7 linked regions of the Homo sapiens genome follow. The protein of the gene in region 6 purifies or fractionates together with the protein of the main gene of each other region. This does not show direct contact. Each region holds a gene or a part of one and is shown on either strand. Other genes may lie near its edges. The genes, in order: TADA1, EPC2, SIM2, TXNRD2, BRD8, FOXR2 and MBTD1.

The links.
Region 1: the proteins of FOXR2 (region 6) and TADA1 purify together in Homo sapiens (affinity purification with mass spectrometry; 3 studies listed by BioGRID and IntAct, with this or other methods). This does not show direct contact.
Region 2: the proteins of FOXR2 (region 6) and EPC2 purify together in Homo sapiens (affinity purification with mass spectrometry; 3 studies listed by BioGRID and IntAct, with this or other methods). This does not show direct contact.
Region 3: the proteins of FOXR2 (region 6) and SIM2 purify together in Homo sapiens (affinity purification with mass spectrometry; 3 studies listed by BioGRID and IntAct, with this or other methods). This does not show direct contact.
Region 4: the proteins of FOXR2 (region 6) and TXNRD2 purify together in Homo sapiens (affinity purification with mass spectrometry; 3 studies listed by BioGRID and IntAct, with this or other methods). This does not show direct contact.
Region 5: the proteins of FOXR2 (region 6) and BRD8 purify together in Homo sapiens (affinity purification with mass spectrometry; 3 studies listed by BioGRID and IntAct, with this or other methods). This does not show direct contact.
Region 7: the proteins of FOXR2 (region 6) and MBTD1 purify together in Homo sapiens (affinity purification with mass spectrometry; 3 studies listed by BioGRID and IntAct, with this or other methods). This does not show direct contact.

Annotation. Positions count from the first base shown.
Region 1 is NC_000001.11:166,866,265-166,869,764, reverse strand, and holds part of TADA1 (transcriptional adapter 1), read left to right. Parts: coding exon 1-2; intron 3-254; coding exon 255-320; intron 321-3,500. UniProt on the Homo sapiens protein: Probably involved in transcriptional regulation.
Region 2 is NC_000002.12:148,651,251-148,654,750, reverse strand, and holds part of EPC2 (enhancer of polycomb homolog 2), read right to left. Parts: intron 1-3,500. UniProt on the Homo sapiens protein: May play a role in transcription or DNA repair.
Region 3 is NC_000021.9:36,744,115-36,747,265, forward strand, and holds part of SIM2 (single-minded homolog 2 long isoform), read left to right. Parts: intron 1-613; coding exon 614-1,022; coding exon of another isoform or gene 1,023-1,159; exon of another isoform or gene 1,160-2,210; intron 2,211-3,151. UniProt on the Homo sapiens protein: Transcription factor that may be a master gene of CNS development in cooperation with Arnt. It may have pleiotropic effects in the tissues expressed during development.
Region 4 is NC_000022.11:19,917,819-19,921,318, forward strand, and holds part of TXNRD2 (thioredoxin reductase 2, mitochondrial isoform 5 precursor), read right to left. Parts: intron 1,782-3,500; coding exon 1,725-1,781; intron 1,187-1,724; coding exon 1,042-1,186; intron 400-1,041; coding exon 325-399; intron 1-324. UniProt on the Homo sapiens protein: Involved in the control of reactive oxygen species levels and the regulation of mitochondrial redox homeostasis. Maintains thioredoxin in a reduced state. May play a role in redox-regulated cell signaling.
Region 5 is NC_000005.10:138,144,131-138,147,630, forward strand, and holds part of BRD8 (bromodomain-containing protein 8), read right to left. Parts: intron 1,749-3,500; coding exon 1,659-1,748; intron 1,116-1,658; coding exon 1,047-1,115; intron 1-1,046. UniProt on the Homo sapiens protein: May act as a coactivator during transcriptional activation by hormone-activated nuclear receptors (NR). Isoform 2 stimulates transcriptional activation by AR/DHTR, ESR1/NR3A1, RXRA/NR2B1 and THRB/ERBA2.
Region 6 is NC_000023.11:55,622,229-55,626,199, reverse strand, and holds FOXR2 (forkhead box protein R2), read right to left. Parts: upstream 2,801-3,971; 5' UTR 2,489-2,800; coding exon 1,553-2,488; 3' UTR 8-1,552; downstream 1-7.
Region 7 is NC_000017.11:51,190,550-51,194,049, reverse strand, and holds part of MBTD1 (MBT domain-containing protein 1), read left to right. Parts: intron 1-539; coding exon 540-622; intron 623-1,033; coding exon 1,034-1,268; intron 1,269-1,769; coding exon 1,770-1,847; intron 1,848-3,500. UniProt on the Homo sapiens protein: Chromatin reader component of the NuA4 histone acetyltransferase complex, a multiprotein complex involved in transcriptional activation of select genes principally by acetylation of nucleosomal histones H4 and H2A.

The sequences.
Region 1 (3,500 bases), on a different chromosome or scaffold from region 6:
TGGTAAAATAATTATCTGCAGAGTTATTTTACTATTCTGTAGTTTTCCTAGATTTGTAGTAAAGTCTTTTCCCTTTTTAAAAAGTAAAATTTTGGTTTTGTGGTGTATAAGGTTATCTTAATAATGTGGATACTTTAAGTATAAAGCATGGCAGAATAGGGGATATCCAAAATCTTGAGAAGCTAGACCAAAGTTGTGGTTTCCTTATGTTGAAAATGTTTTGAATTTGATTGTCACTATCTTTCCTTTTTCAGTCCATTCTCACAATGATTTCCTCCTGGCCATTCTCACGCGTTGTCAGATTTTGGTTTCTACACCAGGTAAGGGAGTGGAAATACTTCCAGTGTGTGTAAGTCAGCAAAGCACTAGACTTTAGCTTTCTCTAATAGACACAGCTAGTGTTTGTAAAGCAGATGTTTTTGAACTACTCAGAAGAAAAGTTTTATTAGGTAGATACAAATTCTTTTACAGAATCTTTTTTTTTTTTTAAAGCAGAAACTCTTTATTTTTAAGAAAAAGGTATGATTTCTCATTTTCAGTTCTTGGCATACATTTTAATTCTTTCCAGTGGAACCCAAACCTCCTGAACCCCTTTCAGTGTCATCCAAAGCTTGAATTTCTGTTTCTGGAGAAAAAGTCTGTTCACAAATGAGCTATGCAATTTGATCACCATTTTTGACACCAAACTTTTCTTTGCCAAAATTGAATTGTACAACACCAACACTTCCTCTATAATCTTCATCTTATGATGCCAGCTCCTACATCAGTAAAGTGTTTTTCAGCCAAGCCAGATGTGGCACTACTCTTTTCTAACACCCAGAAGGAAGGACTGTCTGAATGTTTGTTTTCACAAGTGCTTTCTCCCTAGGTGGTATTGTGTAATCCTAGGCATGTCCAAGTCCTAGCCCCCGTGGACCCCTTGGTCCGGGCGTGTTATGCTGGGAGAGCTGGGCAAGGCTGCTCTGTGTGCCACCCTCCCCCGCAGGCCAGTTTGCTCAATGGGGGAAATAGTGGTGTCCCTCAGAATAGGGCTTGAGAGAGCCAGAAGGCAAGCAAGGAGATAGCCCGGGAACAAGAGGGCGCAGGGTGAGCACCACAGCAGGGACTGCCCAAATCTACGGAGCCTTGTAAAGCAGGTTATGTCCCTGTACTTATATTACCTTTTGATATTGAGTCCCCACTCAGCTACATTTTAGATTACTTAAGTAAATGAGAAGTGAGGAAGAGGGTGGGAGATCAGGATGAAGAAGGTAAGGGAGATGAAGAGAGGGCAGTTGGTGTTAGGTGTCCTGTACCTAAGGGATACCTAACTTGAAAGGTGTCCGTAGTGGGGAGGTGGGGGAACCCAGCATATGTTGGGAACCTGGACTTCCACTATGTTCTTAGGTAAGATAGCACCTGAAAGGTCAAGCTTCAGCACCTGTGTTTCACAGATTATTGGTAGATAACAAGAGGTAGGGGATAGTAGCATGTTGAGGGGGTAGGTGGAAACGAAACCTGTCACTTTAACCTGAAGAGAAGATTAAGCTGTAAGTCACCTCTCTCAACCATCTTATTTTAATCAGTCAAAAACAAGTAATTAAATACATTGAAAACTTTCCTCATGATAAAAGTCATACTGGACTTTTTAAAAAAAATTAGGCCAAATGATTTATTCAGTAGTTTTTATATTTCTAAATTGCAATTTATATCTATTCATAAGACTACAAAAGTTACCATTACAATTGTGCTTACCAACTCCTGTTGTAGATTAAATTGAAATTTTTTTAAGGGCTTAGGGTGATTCTGATGATCATATATCGAAAGCTCATGTTTTATCTATAAATGGCTGGTATTTTTTAATCCTCTCTCTCTGTTTACTTCTACTGTATGATAAAGAACTCAAGCCAGGGCGTGGTGGCTCACGCCTGTATTCCCAGCACTTTGGGAGGCTGAGGCGGGCGGGTCACTTGAGGTCAGGAGTTCGAGACCAGCCCGGCCAACATGGTGAAACCCCTACTCTACTAATAATACAAAAAAGAAAATTAGCCGGGCGTGGTGGCGCACATCTGTAGTCCCAGCTACTCAGGAGGCTGAGGCATGAGAATCGCTTGAACCTGGGAGGTAGAGGTTACATTGTGCCACGGCACTTCAGCCTGGGCGACAGAGTGAAACTGTGTTTAAAAAAAAAAAAAAAAAATTCACATAAGATCTCCTAACACCTCGTTCTTTGACCCTCAAAGAAGTCGTTGTTAATGTGTAGTAAACTGTGAGCACCTGCTTGTGGGGTTGTTTTAGAGAGCAGTGACTGCCTCCCTCCCCTCACCACACTCATCACCGCACATTCTTACACTGTGTCAGATTTTTGATGTGCTATTTAATTTATATACAAGTAGACTTTAGCCATTCCTCTTTTATGTCCAAAGTTAAATCATAATCTATTTTGTTACATAAAATTTAATTTGATCAGAAAAGCCAATATTGTGAATCTTACTTTTTAGGGAAGCATATTGTAAATTGCCACATATGCCAAAGATAAATGGAGTGATCAGAAGTAAAAACCCTGGTTGATAAGAGTCAAGAGACTTAGGTTCAAGTGTAGGTTTTGCCACTAGCTTACATAATATAGTTACTTGGGCTTTCAAATTTATAAAATAAGTACAGCAATATCTACCCCGTAGGATTATGAAAAAACAGATGAAAGAACTTATAAAAAAGTGATTTTAAAAATAAAAAATGCCAGCCAGACACAGTGGCTCATGTCTGTAATCCCAGCGCTTTGGGAGGCCAAGGTGGGTGGATCACCTGAAGTCAGGAGTTCAAGACCAGCCTGGCCAACATGGTGAAACCCCGTCACTACTAAAAGTACAAAAATTAGCCAGGCATGGTGGTAGGCACCTGTAATCCTGGGTACTAGGGAGGCTGAGGCAGGAGAATTGCTTGAACCTGGGAGGCGAAGGTTGCAGTGAGCCGAGATTGCGCCACTGCACTCCAGCCTGGGTGACAGACTAATACCCTGTCTCAAAAAAAAAAAATAAAAATAAAAAAAATTGCCAAACAAATGTTGAAGTGGTATTCGTAAGTACAGGTGGCTGATTTTAATTAGATAAAAACCTTTGATATTCTGAATGGTTGTTAATAGTTATTTTAAAATAAATGAAGAAGCATTTGGATTTTGAGAATGTATTCTTCCATTGAACACCCCAAATTTCTCAAAATGAAATTAATATTTGTTAGCAACAAAGAGAAGATTTCTATTACAAGTAAAATATAGTTGTTTGTACCTCACAATTTTGGATGGGTTGTTTTCTAGTTTTCTAAGCTAGTCAGGAAAGATGATATTAATAATAATATTTGTTGAGTATAGCATACTAGACACTTTATATGCATTATCTTTAATCCTCACAACAATTCTGCATGGTAGGTGTTAGCCTGTTTTTATAGATAAGGAAACAAAATTAAGAGAAGAGAAAACAAAACAAAAGAAAAACTTGCCTTAGGCCTTATCCAGCTAGTAATTG
Region 2 (3,500 bases), on a different chromosome or scaffold from region 6:
TGCCAGAAAACAGAAGGAAGGAGGAAAACACACATATTAACTTGTAATGTTTGAAAGCGCTCTCTCTTTTTGTTTGTTTGTTTCTAAGAGACAGGGCCTCAGTCTCACTCTGTCATCCAGGCTGGCGTGCAGTGGCGCTATCACAGTTCACTGCAGCCTTGAATTCCCGGGCTCAAGGAATCCTCCAGTTTCAGCCTCCTAAGTAGCTGAGACTACAGGTACATGCCACTCCACCCAGCTGATGTTTTTATTTTTTGTAGACACGAAGCCATACTATGTTGCCCAAGCTGGTCTCAAAACTCCTGGCCTCAAGCTGTAAAAATGTTTAATTGGCATGAGAAAAAATGTGAAACTCTATCACAGAATAATGTATGGGAATACTCTACATTTTACTCTTCCATCAACCTTCATATTTGTTATCCTGTATAAGTGAAAATTGTTACCAAAAAAATGAGTGTTGCCTATAAGACACAGACTTAAGTTTTTACAAAAAAATGTAATCTTGGCCGGGCATGGTGGCTCACACCTGTAATCCCAGCACTTTGGGAGGCAGAAGCAGGCAGATCACGAGGTCAAGAGATCAAGACCATTCTGGCCAAGATGGTGAAACCCCATCTCTACTAAAAATACACAGATTAGCTGGGCGTGGTGGCGTGTGCCTATAGTCCCAAGCTACTTGGGAAGCTGAGGCAGGAGAATCACTTGAACCAGGGAGGCAGAGGTTGCAGTGAGCCAAGATCGCGCCATTGCACTCCAGCCTGGGTGACAGAGCAAGACCCTGTCTCCAAAAAAAAAAAAAACAAAAAAAAAAGTAATCTTTAAAACTAACTTTTCAGATACTTATTAAACAGATGAGGAAATGGGGCTCAATGAGGTTAAGTAATTTACCTCACCCATAAGGCAAGTGGCAGAGGCCAGGATTGGAACCTAAATCACAATTTCAAAGTTCCAACAACTTCACCAAATTAGCAGCAAAACTGAATGCTGCTTGTTGACTCCCCAACCAAGACATGAGACACGTCCTTAGCCCATTTAAAAAAAAAAAAGCAAGCAAGCAGGGAAGCAAAGATAGGAGTTAAGAGAGGTAGCAGATAGGCTGACTCTCCAGTCTGCATTCCTCTGACTTTATAGCAACAGCTGCTTACAGTAAAACAAAAAACCTAAAAGAAGACAGATACAATGAAACTGCTGAGGAGAAACTGGAAGTGACTGGCATCTTCCTCCACAGTGTTAACCCTGTAAGAAGCGGTTCTGCATGATAGAATATGTAAATTTAAAGCTCTGTCCCATTTAAATAGTATAGACAAGGCAAATAATCGATGATCAACTTTAAGTTAAAATCAAATAATCATGATGGACCTTCTGCCATCTGCATTGGTCTCCTTCAGGGCTTATTCCTATCAGCCTCTCCTCCTCATGCTGTCTCTACACACCCATTACTGTTTTTCTACTTCAACTCTACTTAAAACTAAATGAAGATGCAGAGCTGCATTGTTTACCAATACAACGAAACTCAATCCAAGTGACCAGCAACATGCTAAGTGCCTGTATTACAAACTTTTTATCACTTAAGACAGAAAGTGACAGAAGTACCTGGATTGCTATCCTGCCTGTCTTGGGTACTGAATAAAACACACATGATACCTTCCCTCAAGACATTTAGTCTTGTTGGGGAAATAAGTGTCTACTCTCTCTCGTGCACATGCTCTTTTTCATACATATATAAAATTCACACACACACCATTACACACACACTCAAGTGAGAAAAATGATACTAGAAAATTAAAATAAACTCAAGTGGTAAAGACTAAAAGTACTACTGAACTTCAGAATACTTACAGCAATGAGTAAGCCTAGTAAAGTGAAGAAAATTTCATGAAAGCAAGATGATCATAACCAAAACATACACAGAATGGATTGCTCTACTAGGCTCTAGGAAAAATTAATATTAGATAGAGGACGAATATAATCGATCCTCATAAAAGAACGATAAGCCAAATTGACAGGATCTCAGCAGTATTAAAGAGTTAAACCTTAAGCATTAATTTCTTCCCAATATTTAATGTCACATTTGTTAGTTCTTTTCATCTAATTATAATCCTGGACAATATGCCAGTAGATAGACATGCGGTTTCAGAGGTTCAAGTAATTTTTAGAGTCAAAGGTACTTTAAAGGTCACTCAGTCCAATTCTATTTCACAAATGAGAAAACTAAGGGCCAGGAAGGTTAAATAATTTCTACGCGGTCAAACAAAACTCATCCCTTACAACTTTGAAAATTAATAAGTGTGAAGAGTTTGCTTTTTTTTAAAAGGACACTGGAGACTTCTTTTACAGTCTTTGATTCAAATTTCATTTAAAACATAACACATACAAATTATTCTAAGCTCATTAAAACATCTTACAAATTTATGGTTTGTAAAAACACACTAAGTATACAAATTCACCTTGGGACAAATCATGGATTAAAATGATTTAACACTTTAACTTCCTAACTTTTGATCATGCTATATTACCATCGGTAGCAGATCTCTCAGGGCAGCTCTCCAGCTGAGAGGGTAACACTTCTCAACATAGGTATACTAACTTCCCCTTCTCTTTGAATGGCAGACTCAGAGGTAGATACCTGATGCAAGCCAGACCAATAACGCTCTCTATCTCAAGAATCTGGAATTTTGAACTTTAAATGGGAAAATAAATGATAGAACAGTAAAGCTATAAAGGACCTTAGATATCTTCTAGTTCTCAACCCATTCATTTTACAGATGAAGCAGTACAACGGTGAAGCAAGAGCCCCAGAGTCAATCAGCCTGAGTGCAAATTCTGGCTCTAGCATGTTCTTTTTTAGACGGATGATCTTAGGCGAGTTACTTAATTTCTAAAGTTTCAGTTTCTTCCTCTGAAAAAGAAGTAGTAACACCTATATGTCCTACTCTTAAAATCAACTCTAAACCATCTATTAAGTTTAACAAAGTGCCTGGCACATGCTCAAACACTCAACAACACACACTCAAATGTTAGCTGAGATAGTAGTGATGAACAACCTGAGGCTCAGAAAAGCTAAGCAACTTCCAAATTATATGGCCATTTAACCCACTTAGGCATAAATGGGTTAATCCATGACAACCAGAACTAGAAACAAAAACTCCAGAATCATACTTCAGTGGTCTTTCATCTATACCACCCTACAAACTCCTAGGCCTAACATTCAAAACTGCCTATAATTTAGTCTAATTCTACCTTTTTTCCAACCTAATCTCCACCCCTATTTTTACTCCTTCATTCACCAAATATTTACTGAGTGCTTCTATGTTTTAAACGGTTTTTAGTGCTGAAGATGTAACAGGGATAAAATGAAGGGGAAGACAGAAGCAAAAGATGTCTGCATGTCCGAACGAAAACAGGGGAATGATATGGTCAGCAACATCAGAGTGCTATCCTCCTAAAGTTTCTATTAGCAGGAAGAATAGGAAATGATTGACAGAAAGCATCTAACATGG
Region 3 (3,151 bases), on a different chromosome or scaffold from region 6:
CCAGCTACTCAGGAGGCTGAGACAGGGAAATCGCTTGAACCCGGGAGGTGGAGGTTGCAGTGAGCTGAGACAGTGCCACTGCACTCCAGCCTGGGTGACAGAGCAAGACTCCATCACTTGTTCTGTGCCAAGTGAACTTTGGTAATGTGGTCATTAGCAGATAGACCAGTTGAACGTCACGGCCTCCACATTATGACAAAAAAAAAAAAAAAAAGAAAGAAGGAAAAGAAAGGAAGGGAGGGAGGGAGGGAAGGAAAGACGGAAGGAAGGAAGGAAGGGAAGGAAGGAAGAAAAGAAAAAAGAAATAAAGAAAGAAAGAAAAACAAAGAAAGAAAGAGAAAGAAGGAAAAAGAGAAAGAAAGAAAGAAAGAAAGAGTCCATGTGTGCCTGATGTCTTGTTAGCTTGGGGTGGGGGATCTCTTTCCACCCTGGGAGCAGGTCACTGGGGTATCGCTCGCTGTGTGCCTGTCCCCAGTGGGACCTTGCAGTGGTGGCGAGGGTAGGGGCAGCCCTTGGATGGGGTTGGGCCCCGTCGGGACGGTTCTTGCAGGGCCGGAAGGCAGCTTCCTGCCGGCCCCTCGCTGGCCCTTCATCCATCTTCTTTGCCATGCAGCAATACAGCTCGTTCCAAATGGACAAACTGGAATGCGGCCAGCTCGGAAACTGGAGAGCCAGTCCCCCTGCAAGCGCTGCTGCTCCTCCAGAACTGCAGCCCCACTCAGAAAGCAGTGACCTTCTGTACACGCCATCCTACAGCCTGCCCTTCTCCTACCATTACGGACACTTCCCTCTGGACTCTCACGTCTTCAGCAGCAAAAAGCCAATGTTGCCGGCCAAGTTCGGGCAGCCCCAAGGATCCCCTTGTGAGGTGGCACGCTTTTTCCTGAGCACACTGCCAGCCAGCGGTGAATGCCAGTGGCATTATGCCAACCCCCTAGTGCCTAGCAGCTCGTCTCCAGCTAAAAATCCTCCAGAGCCACCGGCGAACACTGCTAGGCACAGCCTGGTGCCAAGCTACGAAGGTGGGTCAGGTCTGCTCGTGGGGAAGGTGGGAGGACTGCGCACGGCCGGGAGCCGAAGCAGCCATGGCGGTGGGTGGCAGATGGAGACAGAACCCTCACGCTTTGGGCAAACTTGCCCTCTTTCTGCTTCTAAGTAGGGCTTGCTGTGCTTTCTTGCTCTCAATGCAGGTGCTCCTCGAGAGTGAGAAATGGCAGTCTGCCTGCCTCGGGGACACTAGTGACAGTATAAAGGGCAAAGGAAAACCGAGTATCTGGCCTTCACGTAAATCCTGGCCACATTCACCAACCAAAGGGGGACAGTGATTTTCAAAACCAGCTCCCATGTGCTGAGAACACCCCAGCTGCATTTCTTTTGCAAGATTCCTTTCCACTCCAACCAGAAGTGAATATTTGAGACAAACGGCCTATTGGCTATTTTCCCATGCCAGTTTTGGAAGTGGGGAAAACTATGGTGGAAATTTGTGGGCTTGGGGACAGAAATGCCACTCACCAACCCAGGGCAAAGAACACAAACCCTCCAGGCCTCAGTTTCTTCACCTGTAAAATGGGGTGAAGCTGTGATGTGCCTACTCCCAAGGACACGACACACAGTAGGGACCTGCCCTGTACATGCTAGTTCAACAGAAAGGAATGGCCTTTCACCTTCTCCTGGTGGCAGGCAAGCAGATGTCCTCTGCGGAGATACCGCCAGCTCCCCAGGACGCAGACTGACTCCTGTTTGCTCGCTGGACCAACCCCAGGCAGAAGGTGGAAGGTGGGAACAGAGGTTTAGCTGCAGGACATGTATTCCCATTGCACCGAGACCTAACTGCCGCTCAGAGTGTAGACCGAGATGGTGCAGATGCCTGCAGTGCCACTAAAATGTGGGTGAAGGTGACATCAGGATTATGTGCCCCAGGCCGGGCTCAGTGGCTCACACCTGTAATCCCAGCACTTTGGGAGGCCAAGGTGGGCGGATCACCTGAGGTCAGGAGTTTGCGACAAGCCTGCCAACAAGCTGAAACCCCATCTCCACTAAAAATACAAAAATTAGTTGGGCATGGTGGTGAGCACCTGTAATCCCAGCTACTCTGGAGGCTGAGATAGGAGGATCACTTGAACCCGGGAGGTGGAGGTTGCAGTGAGCTAAGATCACATCACTGCACTCCAGCCTGGGTAACAGAGTGAGACTGTCTCAAAAAAAAAAAAGAAAAAGAAAAAGGATGATGTGCCTCAGAAAAGCAGCACACCAGCCCCTGCTTAAGAAGACAGCTCTTGGAAGTTCCTCCACGCCTCTCTCGAGGCAGGTAGGGCTCTGCTCCTTCTGGGCCTCATCCTGCTTTTTCTGCAAATCCTAGGAATCTCTTGCTCTGTATTGTGACTTGAGGCTGAGATAACATTTCTTCCCAAATCTGAGAAGAGAGATAGATTACGGGAGAATGCCGCCTTTCTGGAAATCACTAGGACATGTTTTTTCAGAAGTAGCTAACTTAGAAAAGACCACATTGGTGACCAGGGCCAGGACCCCTGCCTTTTGACCTGGCCTGTCCCAGGAGCCACGGATCCCTTAGATTTGCATCTGCCATACCCGTGAACATCTTGGGCCCCTCATATAACCAAGGAAGGGATCTCCAGAACATCCAAGCAAAGGAAGACAAAGCAAAGGGTTTTGATAACAGCTGAAAGTATTACCCACTTGAGATTGACTTGAATTTGTGTGTCGGAAGCTGGCTAATGCTGTCACATGGTATTTGACTTTTACCACTATTTTAAAAGTGAAAGAGGTTAACAATCTCCTTATCACACACTTGATAAAAAGTGGACCAAAGGTGCTAATTTGAGGCAATTTGCGATCAGCTTCCTAGTCTTTTTGGTATTAAAGGAAGACAAATTTTGCCATATAGTGTTTAAAAACAAACAAACAAACAAAGACAAAAAAAACCCACAAGCCAGGGAGCTACTTAATGTCAGGCATCGGACTGAGTAGATGGGAGTGGTTATTTTTCATTATGACACGGCGAAACCGATCGGGGTGGTTACCACCCCTCTCCACTAAGGGACGGGCAGAAGAAATCAGAGCAGACGGGGGCCCTCCAACACCAGGGCCCCTGGTGGCCTCTAGACCTCTGCCGTCCAATCAGGTAGCCACC
Region 4 (3,500 bases), on a different chromosome or scaffold from region 6:
GCTATGTCCACGCTCTCTGGCCTGAGGCCTTCCAGCCCCAAGCGCCTCCTCCCTGTGCAGCCCTGGGCTCTGGCCATTCTGCCAATGTGGCCTCACTCATTCCTTGGCAGCACCTCCAGGCTCTGCTCAGCAGCAAAGGGCAGTCTCCCCTTCCCCTACAGTCACTCCCATCTGCTCCTTGTCCTCATCCCCACCCATGAGCAGGACATGAACCCCCAGAGCCTGCCAGAGCATGCTCTGCACAGTAAGTAAGTGTGTGTCCAGGCACAGAACGCCCAAGAGAAGGCCCAGAGGGCGGCCCATTCCCGGAGAGAGCTTCAGTACCTGTCCTGAAGCTGGACACGGTGGCCCCAGTTCAAGGATTTCACGTGATTTTGAACAGCTTCTGCCATCTTCCTCCTGTGAAGATACGAAACAAAATGTAAAATCCACAACACAGGTGTTAGCTGCAGGGCCTCACGATGGACTATTAGATTCAAATGGTACATTCATAGAAATATCAAAAAACAAGAGTGCTTTTAAAGGTGGCAAAACGTGACATCCATCCCTACGTGCAACCGCCTGTCCCAGGCTCAGGGCTGCAGACCTTTGGACTCACAGAAAACAGGGGCTCTGACCCACGGCTCTCCAGATGCAGCTGCTCTGTGCCCCAAAGGCTACCCACTGCAGGCAGAGGCCTATCTGAGCCAATGTGGGTGTGGCTGGGCCACGTGGTCCCCTTCCCAGAAGAGCTCAGCTGAAGCGGCCTCCCACCCGCACTCCTGGCCTTGGAGATGCACTGTTCTTGGTGGGGCTGTGCTGTGCATGGCTGTAGCATCCCTGGGCTCCCCGCAAAGGGGAGCAAACCCTTCCCCAGTGACAACCAAAACTGTCTCCAGACATTCCCAAATGTCTGAGGCAGACAGCGCAGAGTCGCCCCTGGCTGAGAAACCCATCCTACGGCCCACTCCCCATGAGGGCTCATCGAGGATAAGCCTCCTCTTCCTCTTCCACCCAAGAGTAGAAGAAAAGCACTGGAATGCCACGGCGCCAGATCCTTACCAGTCATGCGGCACGGGCTGGGCCACCTCCCAGCCATAGTTGGGGGCATCTTGGATCAGGCCTCCCAGCAGTGCCGCCTGGTGCATCAGCTTCTTGGGGATGCAGCCCACGTTGACGCAGGTGCCGCCGAGGCCCCACCGGGTGCCTGGGACGTGGGAAGAGCACATTTGAATTTATGTTCAGGTGACTGCTGGAGGCTTCCCTGTTCTTCTAGAGTGTTTGGAATTCCTTAAAGTTGCTTTGTAACTCTAACACAGACCAGCTGACATGCCACACGAATCTGCTCTCTATAACTGTACTCGAAAATAAAAACAGTTGTTTTTACTTTTTAATATTTATTAATTTATTTATTTGAGATGGAGTTTTGCTCTTGTTACCCAGGCTGGAGTGCAGTAGTGCAATCATAGCTCACTATAGCCTCGAACTCCTGGGCTCAAGTGATCAAGGCCTGCCTTGGCTTCCCAAAGTGCTGTGAGTACAGGCGTGAGCAACTGCACCTGGCCAGAGTTGTTTTCGATAATGGTCAAGAACTTTAAAGTAATGATGAGTGAAACAGGACACTGTCCAGAAACCATGGACAGCAGGGCTGAAGGACTTTGGTGTCAGCTGCCCTCTGTACAGGAACTGGGCCCACCTCCCACCTCCTTCCCCAGGACACCCGGCTCCCATAGGGTGCTGCCTACCTTGGGGAGAAGGTTCCACGTAGTCCACCACGGCCACCTTCCTTCCCAGCTGGGCGGCTGGAAGGATAAGGAGAGCAGCAGGTGAGCATGGGGAGCTGGCTCAGGACTCAAGAACAGGCACTCCTCAGGGCTTGTGAGGTCCAGAAGAGTGTGGGCAGGGCCTGGGCCTGCGGCTGCCCACACAGTGGCTGAGCTGCGCAATGCTAGGGACCCCTGATCTGCCTCTGCGCTCTGGCCTGCTGAGCTGCGCTGCCTGCTGGCTCTGCATTGAGTCTTCCAGTCTCTTTCTGGCACTGCCCACCCAGCTGCGCTGCCCACAGGCAGGAGCCCTCAGACCTCTCAGGGCCCGCAGCCTTTGTACCATCCACCCCTCACAGTGCTGGCATCAGCCCCACCTGCCCCTGCATGTTCACGTTCACCATAAGCCCAGTGCCCACCCAAGCATCCCTGGGTGGCATCCCCCAGGTAGCCACTCACCGGGAATGGCTCCTGACTCAGAGGCTCTCCCTTGCCCCTTCCCATCCCAGCCAGAGCCCCCTAGGTGGGCATTCGCTGCCTCACTCTCAGGACCAGGACACCAAAGCTCAGGAGAAGTGACGCAGCAGCCCCAGGGTGGACCAGCCCCAGAGCAGGAGCCGAGACCTGACTCCAAACCACACTTCCCGCTGCAGAGCCACCCAGTTGCCCTCCCAGCCAGCAGTGTGGCCACCCAGGGCCACAGGTTCTGGGGCCAACTCAGAAACCATTAGCCAGGACCGGGCATGGTGGCTCACACCTGTTATCCCAGCACTTTGGGAGGCTGAGGAAGGTGTATCACTTGTGGTCAGGAGTTCAAGACCAGCCTGGCCAACATGGTAAAACGTGTCTCCACTAAAAATAAAAATTAAAAAATTGGCCAGGTGTGGTGGTGCAAGCCTGTAGCCCCAGCTACCCGGGAGGCTGAGGCAAGAGAATCGTTTGAGCCCAAGAGGCAGAGGCTGCAGTGAGCAGAGATCACACCACTGTACTCCAGCCTGGGCGACAGAGCAAGACTCTGTCTCAAAAAAGAAAGAAAGAAAAAAAAAAAAAAACATTAGCTAGGGCTAATTTCAAGCTTCCATTTGCCCGGGCTTGGGCACTGCATCAGCAAACTTCAGGCCTTGGACTTGACTGCCTCCCAAGGCACACACAAATCTCATGAACCCTAAAATGCCAAGGAAAGTGTTTGATTCGTGGCTATTAGAAAGCAAGATTAGAACAAAGTTTTGTAAGAGTTCATTTTTAAAATCCATTTTGCTTGGCTGGGTGCAGCGGCTCATGCCTGTAATCCCAGCACTTTGGGAGGCCAAGGTGGGCAGATCACGAGGGCAGGAGATCGAGAACATCCTGGCTAACACGGTGAAACCCTGTCTCTACTAAAAAATACAAAAACAAAATTAGTTGGGCGTGGTGGCAGGTGCCTATAGTCCCAGTTACTCGGGAGGCTGAGGCGGGAGAACGGTGTGAACCCAGGAAGCGGAGCTTGCAGTGAGCCGAGATTGTGCCACTGTACTCCAGACTGGGTGACAGAGCGAGACTCTGTCTCAAAAAAAAAAAAAAAAAGCTAATGTCCACAAGGCACAGTGGCTCACGCCTATAATCTCAACACTTTGGGAGGCCGCAGCAGGCAGATTGCTTGAGCCCAGGAGTTTGAGACCAGCCTGGGCAATATAGCAAAACCCTGTCTCTACAAAAAATACAAAAATTAGCTGGGTGTGGTGGCATGCGCCTGTGGTCCCAGCTGCTCGGGAGGCTAAG
Region 5 (3,500 bases), on a different chromosome or scaffold from region 6:
TTAAGAGCTGTAACACTCACCGCCAAGGTCTGCAGCTTCACTCCTGAAGCCAGCGAGACCACCAACCCACTGGGAGGAACGAACAACTCCAGAGGCGCCACCTTTAAGAGCTGTAACACTCGCTGTGAAGGTCTGCAGCTTCACTCCTGAACTCAGCGAGACCACAAACCCACCGGGAGGAAGAAACTCCGGACACATCTGAACATCCGAAGGAACAAACTCTGGACACACCATCTTTAAGAACTGTAACACCACGAGAGTCTGCAGCTTCATTCCTGAAGTCAGCGAGACCAAGAACCCACCGGAAGGAACCAATTCCGGACACAATACTACAATCAACCAATGTTCATAACTTCCATTTGGATCGACATCTGTGCCTTACTATACCTATAACTAACTGAATAAATACAGGGTTCCTTTTAAAGTTTTGCTCCAAAAGAATAGTGTCAAAAACAACCAAAGGCTAATTTAAGATTATAATTAATGATCAGGCTGGACACCAAGGCTCACACCTATAATCCCAGCCTTTGGAAGGCCTAGGCAGGTGGATTGCTTGAGCTCAGGAGTTCAAGACCAGCCTGGGCAACATGGCAAAGCTCCGTTTCTACAAAAAATACAAATATTAGCCGGACGTGATGGCTCATGCTTGTAGTCTTAGCTACTTGGGAGGCTGAGGCTGGAGAATAGCTGAGCCTGGGAAGAGGATGTTGCAGTGAGCCAAGACTGTACCACTGCACTCCAGCCTGGGCAACAGAGTGAGACCCTGTCAAAAAAAAAAAAAAAAAAAAATATATATATATATAGAATGGATCATATTACTTAAAAGTCAATAGTACAAAATAAAAAGCCTATATCATCCTTTTGTTCCCTGCATTCCTTCTTAAATGAAGATATGATACTGAGCTCATCATAACTTTATAAACTTGTTTGGCTATGAAACATATCTTGAGTTTGTAAGTTATAAAAATAATCTAACAGATGGGAAATAAAAAATGAAAAGGCAGATATAAAAGCAACCAACCTTTCTTGACCCCTTTTTCACTGACCTTTTCACCACATCCTTGTACCCTGGGGCCTGCCTTTCTGACACAGGCTTCAGAAATGGACTGCTGAACCTGTTAAGGGACAAACCCAGAGAGGATAAAGAAACCCTGGCAAGGCACTCTGAAGGAGAAGAGTAGCTCAGTTCTTAGTAGACTTCCTTTAGGGGAATGCAGACTGTCAGCACCATTAGGAAAAAATCTATTTGTTCCCTCTTGCCAGAGAGTTAAAAAAAACACAAAACTATAAAATATTTCACTATTATTACAATATACTGATTTAGGGCTCAGAAATTTGTTCAAAGTTCCCAAGGCCCTGTCTCTGTGAAAAAAGAGAATCCACCAGATTGAAAAGAAGAATATACATTTTAAATATAAATTTTATCATGTAGTAGGAACCAATTTCTAGAGGCAACTCAAATGGCACAGCAACTATTTCTTGTACAGACTTGTGAAAGCAGCTGTGGGTACTTTGGGATAAATCGGGCTTAGATACAGAATCTACCTTTCAACTATGGCTCATTTGAGGGATGAACATATCTCCTTTTATGCTTAAACCCCAATATGTATTACTGCTTCAGCTCTGAACATAATCCTATTACCACTTTGGAGACCTACCTGTGACTGGCAATCATCTTCCAGACTGGCAGGAGAGTCTTCTTAAATAGCAAATGATCCTGAACAGGGTCATCCTGGCTTAGATCAGTCCTATGAGGATAAAACATGAAGAAAAGAGACAGTAACTTCACAAATAATATTCTATCTCCCCCAGGTGGGTAATGAGGTTTTCTTAAGACATGCTCCTAATTAATATCTGAAGCTTTTTATCTCCCCTTATCTGGCCAAGCAGACTTAGTTATTAATATCTATTGTTTTCTCTTTTAATTTTTTAATTTTATTTTTCTGAGACAGAGTCTTGCTCTGTTGCCCAGGCTGGAGTGCAGTGGCATGATCTCAGCTCACTGCAACCTCTGCCTCCCGGGTTCCAGCGATTCTCCTGCCTCAGCCTCCCAAGTAGCTGGGACTAAAGTTGCATACCACCACACCCAACTAATTTTTGTATTTTCCATAGAGACGGGGTTTTGCCATGTTGGCCAGGCTGGTCTCAAACTCCTGGCCTTAAGTGATCCACCCGCCTCAGCCTCCCAAAGTGCTGGGATTACAGGCATGAACCACCATGCCCAGCCAATTTTTTTTTTTTTTGAGACAGGGTCTTGCTCTGTTGCCCAGGCTGGAGTGCAGTAGTGTGATCGTGGCTTACTGCAGCCTCAACCTGCTGGGCTCAAGCGATCCTCCTGCCTCAGCCTCCCAAGTAGCTGGGACTCCAGGCACATGCCACCACGCCCTGCAGCTAATTTCTGTATTTGTTGTAGAGACAAGGTCCCACTACGTTGCCCAGGCTGGATATCTACTGCTTTCTAATAAAGATTTCATATTTAATCTAAATTGTAAGGTAAGAATGTGGAATTTACCATCCAAGACTATGAACTGTCATGAGATAAGATGTCTCAGATTGGGCCCGGTGTGGTGGCTCACGCCTGTAATCCCAGCACTTTGGGAGGCCGAGGCAGGCGGATCACAAGGTCAGGAGATTGAGACCATCCTGGCTAACACGGTGAAACCCCGTTTCTACTAAAAATACACAAAAAATTAGCTGGGCGTGGTGGCGGGTGCCTGTAGTCCCAGCTACTTGGGAGGCTGAGGCAGGAGAATGGTGTGAACCTAGGAGGCAGAGCTTGCAGTGAGCCGAGATCACGCCACTGCACTGCAGCCTGGGCGACCGAGCGAAACTCCGTCTCAAAAAAAAAAAAAAAAAAAAAAAGTCTCAGATTGCAGATTTCCTGCTGTTTGTACAGTCACAGTATGTCATCTCTGCACTCTATTGCTCATACTTAAGGAGTTAAAGAAAAGCAAATGAAGGCATTCCTCACCAATCTACATTTTAAACTGTATCCTATTTGTGTACCAAAAATTGAAATCTAGGCTGGGCACAGTGGCTCAGGCTTATAATCCCAGTACTTTGGGAGGCTGAGGTGGGATTGCTTGAAGCCAGGAGTTCAAGACCCAGCTTGGGCAACAAAGCAAGACCCTGTCTCTATGAGAAAAAAAAGAAATCTGCTCTTCAAAAAATATATATATATATATATTCATATATAAATATATGCATGGTTCAGCTGTATATCTTAAACAAAAAAACACTAGAATAATTATTAGTTTTACCTTTCCACAGACAACTGGGTGGATCTGGGATATACTGAAGAAAAAAAAAACAGTTCATACTATATTCTCTCAACAGATGGATCTGACACAGGCTGGAAAAAGAACAATTTATTTATTACCATAACAAAAATAACTTTGCTGGACGTAGTGGCTCATGCCTATAATCTCAGCACTTTGAAAGGCTGAGGCAGGAGAATCACTTGAGGCCAGGAGTCACAGATAAAAACAACTTTGTTTTTC
Region 6 (3,971 bases):
TGACTACTTATATGCAGAATATTTTATTAATTCCAAGGTATTCTGTTAACTTGGTCTTTGCCTTATGATACAGAAGTAGCATTTACAATTTTTTTCAAAAAATACTGTTTGCATATGTTGTTTTGTGATTTAACCTAAATATACAATTTTGTATGAGGTATAATACATCATTATAAAAATGTGAACTTTGAAAATAGTTACAATTATATTGAATTAATTGCTTTTGTAGCTTACAGGCGTTTTTGTACCCCCATTATGAAGGTTTTGCAACTAAATTTATACCTAAAAATCTATTTTCTCCTGGATATATGTTAATATCATTGAAGCAAAAAGCTATGCTTAAATCTGATAAACAAAAGTTTATTTGCATAGAAAAGATGTTAAAGATAATTTTGAAATTAGAAAAACAAATGCTGTAGTGTTTGTTGTTGCTGCTGGCTTGTTTCTTTTTTTGTTTTTTAGCAAAACTCCACTGATGTCTCTTGGCTCCTAAAAACCCACAAGATGAAGTCCAAACACCTAATAGTTTTCTCTTAGTCACTCACGGTCCTCATGTAGTTAAGTCACACTGAACTTCATGCCATTCCCCCAAACACTCCATCCACTTTGTTCACATTGTTGTCTCTGTAATGCCTCTACTCCAGTTTGCCATTTATTCTTCAAAACTAGCTCAAAATGTATTTTTTCCAATGCCCTTTCATGTCTTTCCCAGGAAGAATGTCTCCCCATTTCCATGTCAATTTCTCACATCTGTTTCATCATATTTACATTATAAATATGTCTCCCACTAGTATCCCTCAGCTTTTTATCCTCAGCATCTAAGATGGACCTTGACACATTAGCATATCCTCAATAAAATCTTGAGAACTAAAAATAATAGAAAATAAAGCTTTATCATCAAAAGGCTTGGGGTTAATACAGGAATATTTCACAGGACGTTAAACATACAAACTAAAAGTAGCTGTTTAGAATTATTTGTCAATATTGGAATTGGATGACAAAGAAACAAGGCTTAGAAGTCCAGGGCCAGAAATAGAAAAGTGAGGTTCTGAAGGATAAAATGGGTTACTTAAAAAGGAGATGTAGCTGATGAATGGTAGAAGGGGAAACTTGATTCTTCATCACAAGTCAAATTCTCTTCACATGGCACTCGAGGTTCTCCATGGCTCGGCTCCATCCTGCCTTTTATGCTTTATATTCCACTGTTCACTTTCATGTGTGAAAATACTCTCTATAAACAAAATTCCTTTCTTTCACAAAACACACCCTTCTTTCCTTAGTTTCTATGCCATTGTTTCTAGGATTTCTTTTCCTTTGCTCAAAATTTGGAACAACAGCCACTCTCCTCGTGCGACTTTCCATGACTCTCCACCTGGATTTAAGTTCTGTCTCCCCTGTACCCACCTCTAACTTTACTTAACACCATTATTGTAACAGTAGCTAAAGACAGACTTGGCACCAACCAGGCTGGGTAAGTTTAGAGATTAATGAATGTCAGGGGATAAGTAGGCACAGTAAGGAAGGCAGTGTTCCAAAAGGGAGCAATGGCATTTCAAAGATCAAAGAGAGAGGTCAACAACTCTGGCTGACTCATGCACTCTTGGATTCTCTCCCTTTGAGCAAAGGCTAAGACACGAGTCTCCTCCCAAAAGCGGCGGTGCCCCTCCTTAGTGAGCTTCCAAAGGCAAGAGCGAGGTCTTGCATTATCTTCATCCTTAAGGCTGTCTGGCACCTTCTCAAAGCTGTCCAGGAAGCAGAGGTTGTAATGAATGGTGCTCTTCCAGCCATCCGGAGCTGTCCAGAAAAAGGGGAAATGCTGTCGGGTGAAATTGTAGATCTCCTGCACACTGAGGCCACAGTGGGGGTTGTTTCTTAATGCTAGGGCAATAAGGTGGCTACAATTGAGAGGGGGCCTTTGCCAGGACTTCTCTTGGTTGTTGATTTGCCATAGTTTCTGGCTCTGGTAACATTTCATTTCAGGGGACTGGAGGGAGTTGTCGTCTGGTTCCTCAGCCTCCTCTTCTGTGAGCTCAAAGTCACTGGGGGAATGGATACCCTGCTTCTGTAAAGGAGACTGCTCACTGGAGGAAGATGGCAGAGACTCTACCACTTTGTCCTCTGAGCAGTTAGACCCTTCGTCTTTTTGTGGGGGCTGAGGGAAAGGAGAAATGTTTGTCAGATCCTCTTTTCCACTGGGCTTTGGGGCCTCCTGGCTGCCAAGGGGGCACAGGATATTGGGGTCCACCCACATCCACAGATTGGGTTCACAGGGAGGACCATCTCCATCAGGACTGGGTCTCCTCTTCTGAGGCATTTCTGGGGGCTTCATTACTCCGACTCTGTATTTGGCAAGGATTTGCTCAGCTAAAGAGCACTGGTCTGTGGTACAAGGCAGAAATAACTCATTCCTCATGTCCCAGTCCAGCAGCCCTGGGACCTGGCCATGGAGACTATACCAAAATTCACAGTCTTTTAGTTTTAAGTCCATCTTTACTGGAGAGATAGGTGGAGAGAGACTTCTGAAAGAACAGATATCTAGCAGGCACTTAAAGCTGTCCTTTGGGCATCATTTTTTTATGCAGTGTATCTCATCTAGGGAGCTTATCAGTAGGCCTGCTAGAAGCACTGAAGAAAGAGGCACCAATGTCTCACTGATTAGTGGTCAGACCTGGAGAAACCTCAGCTTTCTGGAACAAGGCTCAAAACATGGAAGTAATAAAAAAGAGCTTTTGAGCAGAAAAACATTTTTAGGTGGAATTCTTGAGCTTTGATTGGAAGCAGAAAGTCACTTCAAGAGGAATTATAAACTGAATTATGTGCAAACTATGGTGACTTGCATAATAGGTGATCATCTGGCACATATTTAAACCCTTGATGAGTTCATTTAAGGAAGGGACAAACATATGTATAGATCACATTATATTTCTGAGTCTTCCTTAATGGTTTTAAAAATCATTTCATTCATCGAGTGCCTTTGGATTTTGGTTAAGTGCTTTCACATAGATGATCTCAACTGATTTTCATCACAGCCCTGCAAGATAACATGGTATTATTATCCTCATGTCACAGACATGGCAACTGAGATATACAGACATGAGTAAGTAGGAGAGCTAGATCCACAGCCCAGATCTTTTATTTTCACTATACGCATTGCCTCTTGATCATACTCAACATACGATATACAACAGGCAGTAATATGTGCAACCTGAGTTTTATAGTAAGATGGTAACTATCAGAACATGGCCTCTATTATTCTCATACTGATACTAGAATCTAACCTTGCTGCCGTTTTCAATCCTTTTCTGGGAAACAGCTGGCTTTCCTCTCTCCAGGTCACCTTCTTAGGAAATGAGTTCTGAACTATACTCTGAACAGTAGGACCAAAATTTAGCCACAGTATGCAAGGTCCTGAAAGCCCCAGAGGTTCTATTTCCAGTAAGTTCACACCCAGGACATTTGTAAGAAAAATAAAATGGCAAGGTTTCCTTTAATTCAGTTTGCACAAAATCCATGTGTAAAGTATGCGATATCATTAAAATCACTACATAGGACTATGTTGCAAACATATCCAGCAAATGTCAATGGGAGCTATTGGAGAGGCACTTTAATCTCCATATTGTTTCCATACTCTGGTTCTCTTCTACTCTAATCTTTCATACAAGTGGCCTGAGTTGTCTTTCTACAGCATAAATACAAAAAACAACACAACAGTTGTACCAACTGTTAATTATTACAGAATGCTGTAAGCACTCTAACTCAAATCTTCAAAATAATCCTATGAAGTAGGTACTCTTATTATTCTTCCTTTACAGAGTAAAAAACATAAGGCACAAAAAAGCCTAAGTCACAGAGCTAGTAAAGGCCAGAGCTGACTTTCAAACATAGGCAACCTGACTGCAGAACACATGCTTTTACTAACTATACCAATCTTCTCTATTTTGGTGTTATAACATAAAATCTTATAACTTAAT
Region 7 (3,500 bases), on a different chromosome or scaffold from region 6:
CATTGTAGTAAACAGAAAAAGAGAGCCACTTTTGCGTTAGACTAAGTAGGCACACCAGTGTTTCTAGAGAGGGGAGGGAAATCTGTGTAACATGGAGGAATTATTGCACTCAGCAGTATAAATCATATAGGCCAGGTGCAGTGGCTCACGCCAATAATCCCAGCACTTTGGGAGACTCAGGTAGGAGGATTGCTTGAGACCAGGAGTTTGAGAACAACCCGGGCAACATAGGGAGACCCTGTCTCTACTAAAAACAACAAAAAATTAGCCTGTCACAGTGGCATGTGCCTGTAGTCCCAGCTACTAGAGAGGCTAAGGCAGGAGGATCACTTGAGCCCTGGAGGTTGAGGCTGCAGTAAGCCTTTGAGGGCACTACTGCACTCCAGCCTGGGCGACAGAGCAAGACCCTGTCTCAAAAAAAATAAAGTTGATCATATAACCTATGCTCTTAAGATTTTTTGTACTGTTACTTTTTGTCTGCATTTTAATATTATGCTAATTTTAAATGAACTGCTAGTTAAACCAGTTGTGTTTTTTAGGTTACACAAAACTTCCTTTTAAATGGTTTGACTACCTCAGGGAAACTGGCTCCATTGCAGCACCAGTAAAACTATTTAATAAGGTAAATTTAAATGGCAGCATAATTATGTGAGGACTTATTAATGCCCCACAAATACAATTTATGTTCATAAAAATGTCTTTGCCTTGTATTAGAATTTCTTAGTGGAGATATAATATAAACAAATATAGCAATGAAACAATATAAATATTTTCTTTACCTAGGAATCAAAACTTGTTTCCAAACTATGTTTCGTTTTTAATCTGAAGGAAATAGAAATGAAGATTTTTCCTAACTAGTTTTTAAATACTTCACCTTCGTACTATGTTTAAATAGTTAAAGAATTATTTGGAATTTATGGTTTATAATTATGTTATTTAGCTAGTCGCTTCTGTTTTTTGCTTTCTTAGTGATAGTAGGGTTGTGCATTCTTTCTTCTTCATACCAATATTAATGTTTTCTTCTCTGTGTCAGGATGTTCCAAATCACGGATTTCGTGTAGGAATGAAATTAGAAGCAGTAGATCTCATGGAGCCACGTTTAATATGTGTAGCCACAGTAACTCGAATTATTCATCGTCTCTTGAGGATACATTTTGATGGATGGGAAGAAGAGTATGATCAGTGGGTAGACTGTGAGTCACCTGACCTCTATCCTGTAGGGTGGTGTCAGTTAACTGGATATCAACTACAGCCTCCAGCATCACAGTGTAAGTTGGTATACAGAAAAGGTGTCCTTTTGTAAAAATCAGCAATTCTCCAGAGGACTATCTCACATAAGTCATCTTATGAGCTCACAGGACAAGAATATACCTATGTCTGATTGGTTGCCAGGTAAGACATTAAGACTCAACAACAATATCACAGAATCAGACCATGTGTCCCATGGCAATGTGAATCCAATAGTCAATTACATAATGACTATAGAAACACAACAGTCACCAAATTAAACTAGACTTACTATTTTAGTGAGTTAAAAATTACATACTAAAAGTTTATTGGTAGGTAATAAATGCTTTTGAGTAAATAGTGGAAAATGTCTCATGTTGAGGCTATGGTTTTGTAGGAACAAGTACCCTTATTTTCAGAGCATCATGTACTTAAGTATAATGGTCTTGGTAAAGATAGTTCATATAAGTTGTATCTAGACAACTGTATCGTCTAAATTGTAAACAATTATCTAGTACCAATTTTCCCTTTTTATTTTTCAGCATCAAGAGAAAACCAATCAGCTTCATCAAAACAGAAGAAAAAGGCTAAGTCCCAGCAATACAAAGGACATAAGAAAAGTGGGTCACCACGTGGTGTTCACATACATTTTCTAATTGTTAACTAATTGGAGTCACAGTATTCTTGGACAGAAAATGATATATCTTGTGAGAACTGATGATTGTGCATTATGTATTATGCTTAAAGGTGCAGTATGCCATAAAAGGCAAACCCTTGCAATAATGAGAAACACTGATATTTTACTAACAGGAGAAATTATTACCACAGTATTTAAAGTATACGTGGTAAAGAATAGAGTCTGTGAATGATTCTTGAAATAATATGTAAAACCTACTGAAAGTTAATCCTTTTTAAAAACTTTATTTAAAAAGAAAAATTAGCAGCCAGGTGCAGTGGCTCACGCCTGTAATCCCAGCACTTTAGGAGGCCGAGGCTGGCAGATCACAAGGTCAGGAGATCGAGACCATCCTGGCTAACACGGTGAAACCCTGTCTCCACCAAAAATACAAAAAATCTGCCGGGCGTGGTGGCACACGCCTGAAGTCCCAGCTACTCAGGAGGCTGAGGCAAGAGAATCACTTGAACCCAGGAGGCAGAGGTTGCAGTGAGCCAAGATCACGCCACTACATTCCAGCTGGGCAACACAGCAAGACTCTGTCTCAAAAAAAAAAAAAAAAATTAGCAGATGCTTGATGCTTACAGTAGATGTGAAGCCTAATAAACCCATTTTTCCTAGAAAGCAAAACTTTCTAGAGTGATACTGGTAAGAAATCCAAGTTGATGGCAAACAAGCTTTACCAAATTTTTCTAGAAATGCTTTCTATACTAAAAAATTAGCCGGGTGTGGTGGTGCACGCCTGTAATCCCAGCTACTTGGGAGGCTGAGGCAGGAGAATTGCTTGAACCCAGGAGGCGGAGGTTGAGGTGAGCCGAGATCGTGCCATTGCACTCTAGCCTGGGCAACAAGAGCAAAACTCCATCTCGAAAAAAAAAAAAAAAAAGAAATTCTTTCTATACTATATTTTACCTTACAGTGAATTGTTGGCATAAGCCAAAGTAATATAAAATATATTGATAACTATGTTTGATTTTTTTTATCTTATTTCCCCACCATAGAAAGCCATAGCTTTCTCTCTTCATAAAACTTGTCATAGAATGTTTCATTCTTTTTTGAGACAAGGCCTTACTTTGTTGCTCAGGCTGGAATGGAGTGCAGTGGCACAATCTCCGCTCACTACAGCCTTAACCTTCCCTGGCTCAAGCAGTCCTCCCACCCCAGCCTCCTGAGTAGCTTGGACCACAGGCATGTGTTGCCACACACCCAGCTAAGTTTTGTATTTTTTTGTAGAGACAGAGTCTTGCCACGTTGCCCAGGCTGGTCTCAAACTTTTGGGCTCAAGCACTCTGCCCACCTCAGCCTCCCAAAGTGCTGGGATTACAGGCATGAGCCACCACACATGGCCATATTTCATTTCATTCTTAGATAAGGTTATATATATATATATATATATTTTTTTTTTTTTTTTTTTTTTTTTTTTTTGAGACAGAGTCTCAGTCTGTCGCCCAGACTGGAATGCAGTGGTATGATCTTGGCTCACTGCAGCCTCGACTTCTCGGGTACAAGCAATTCTCCCACCTCAGCCCCTGGAGTAGCTGGGACTACAGGAGTATACCACCATGCCCAACTCGTTTTTATATTTTTATAGAAATGG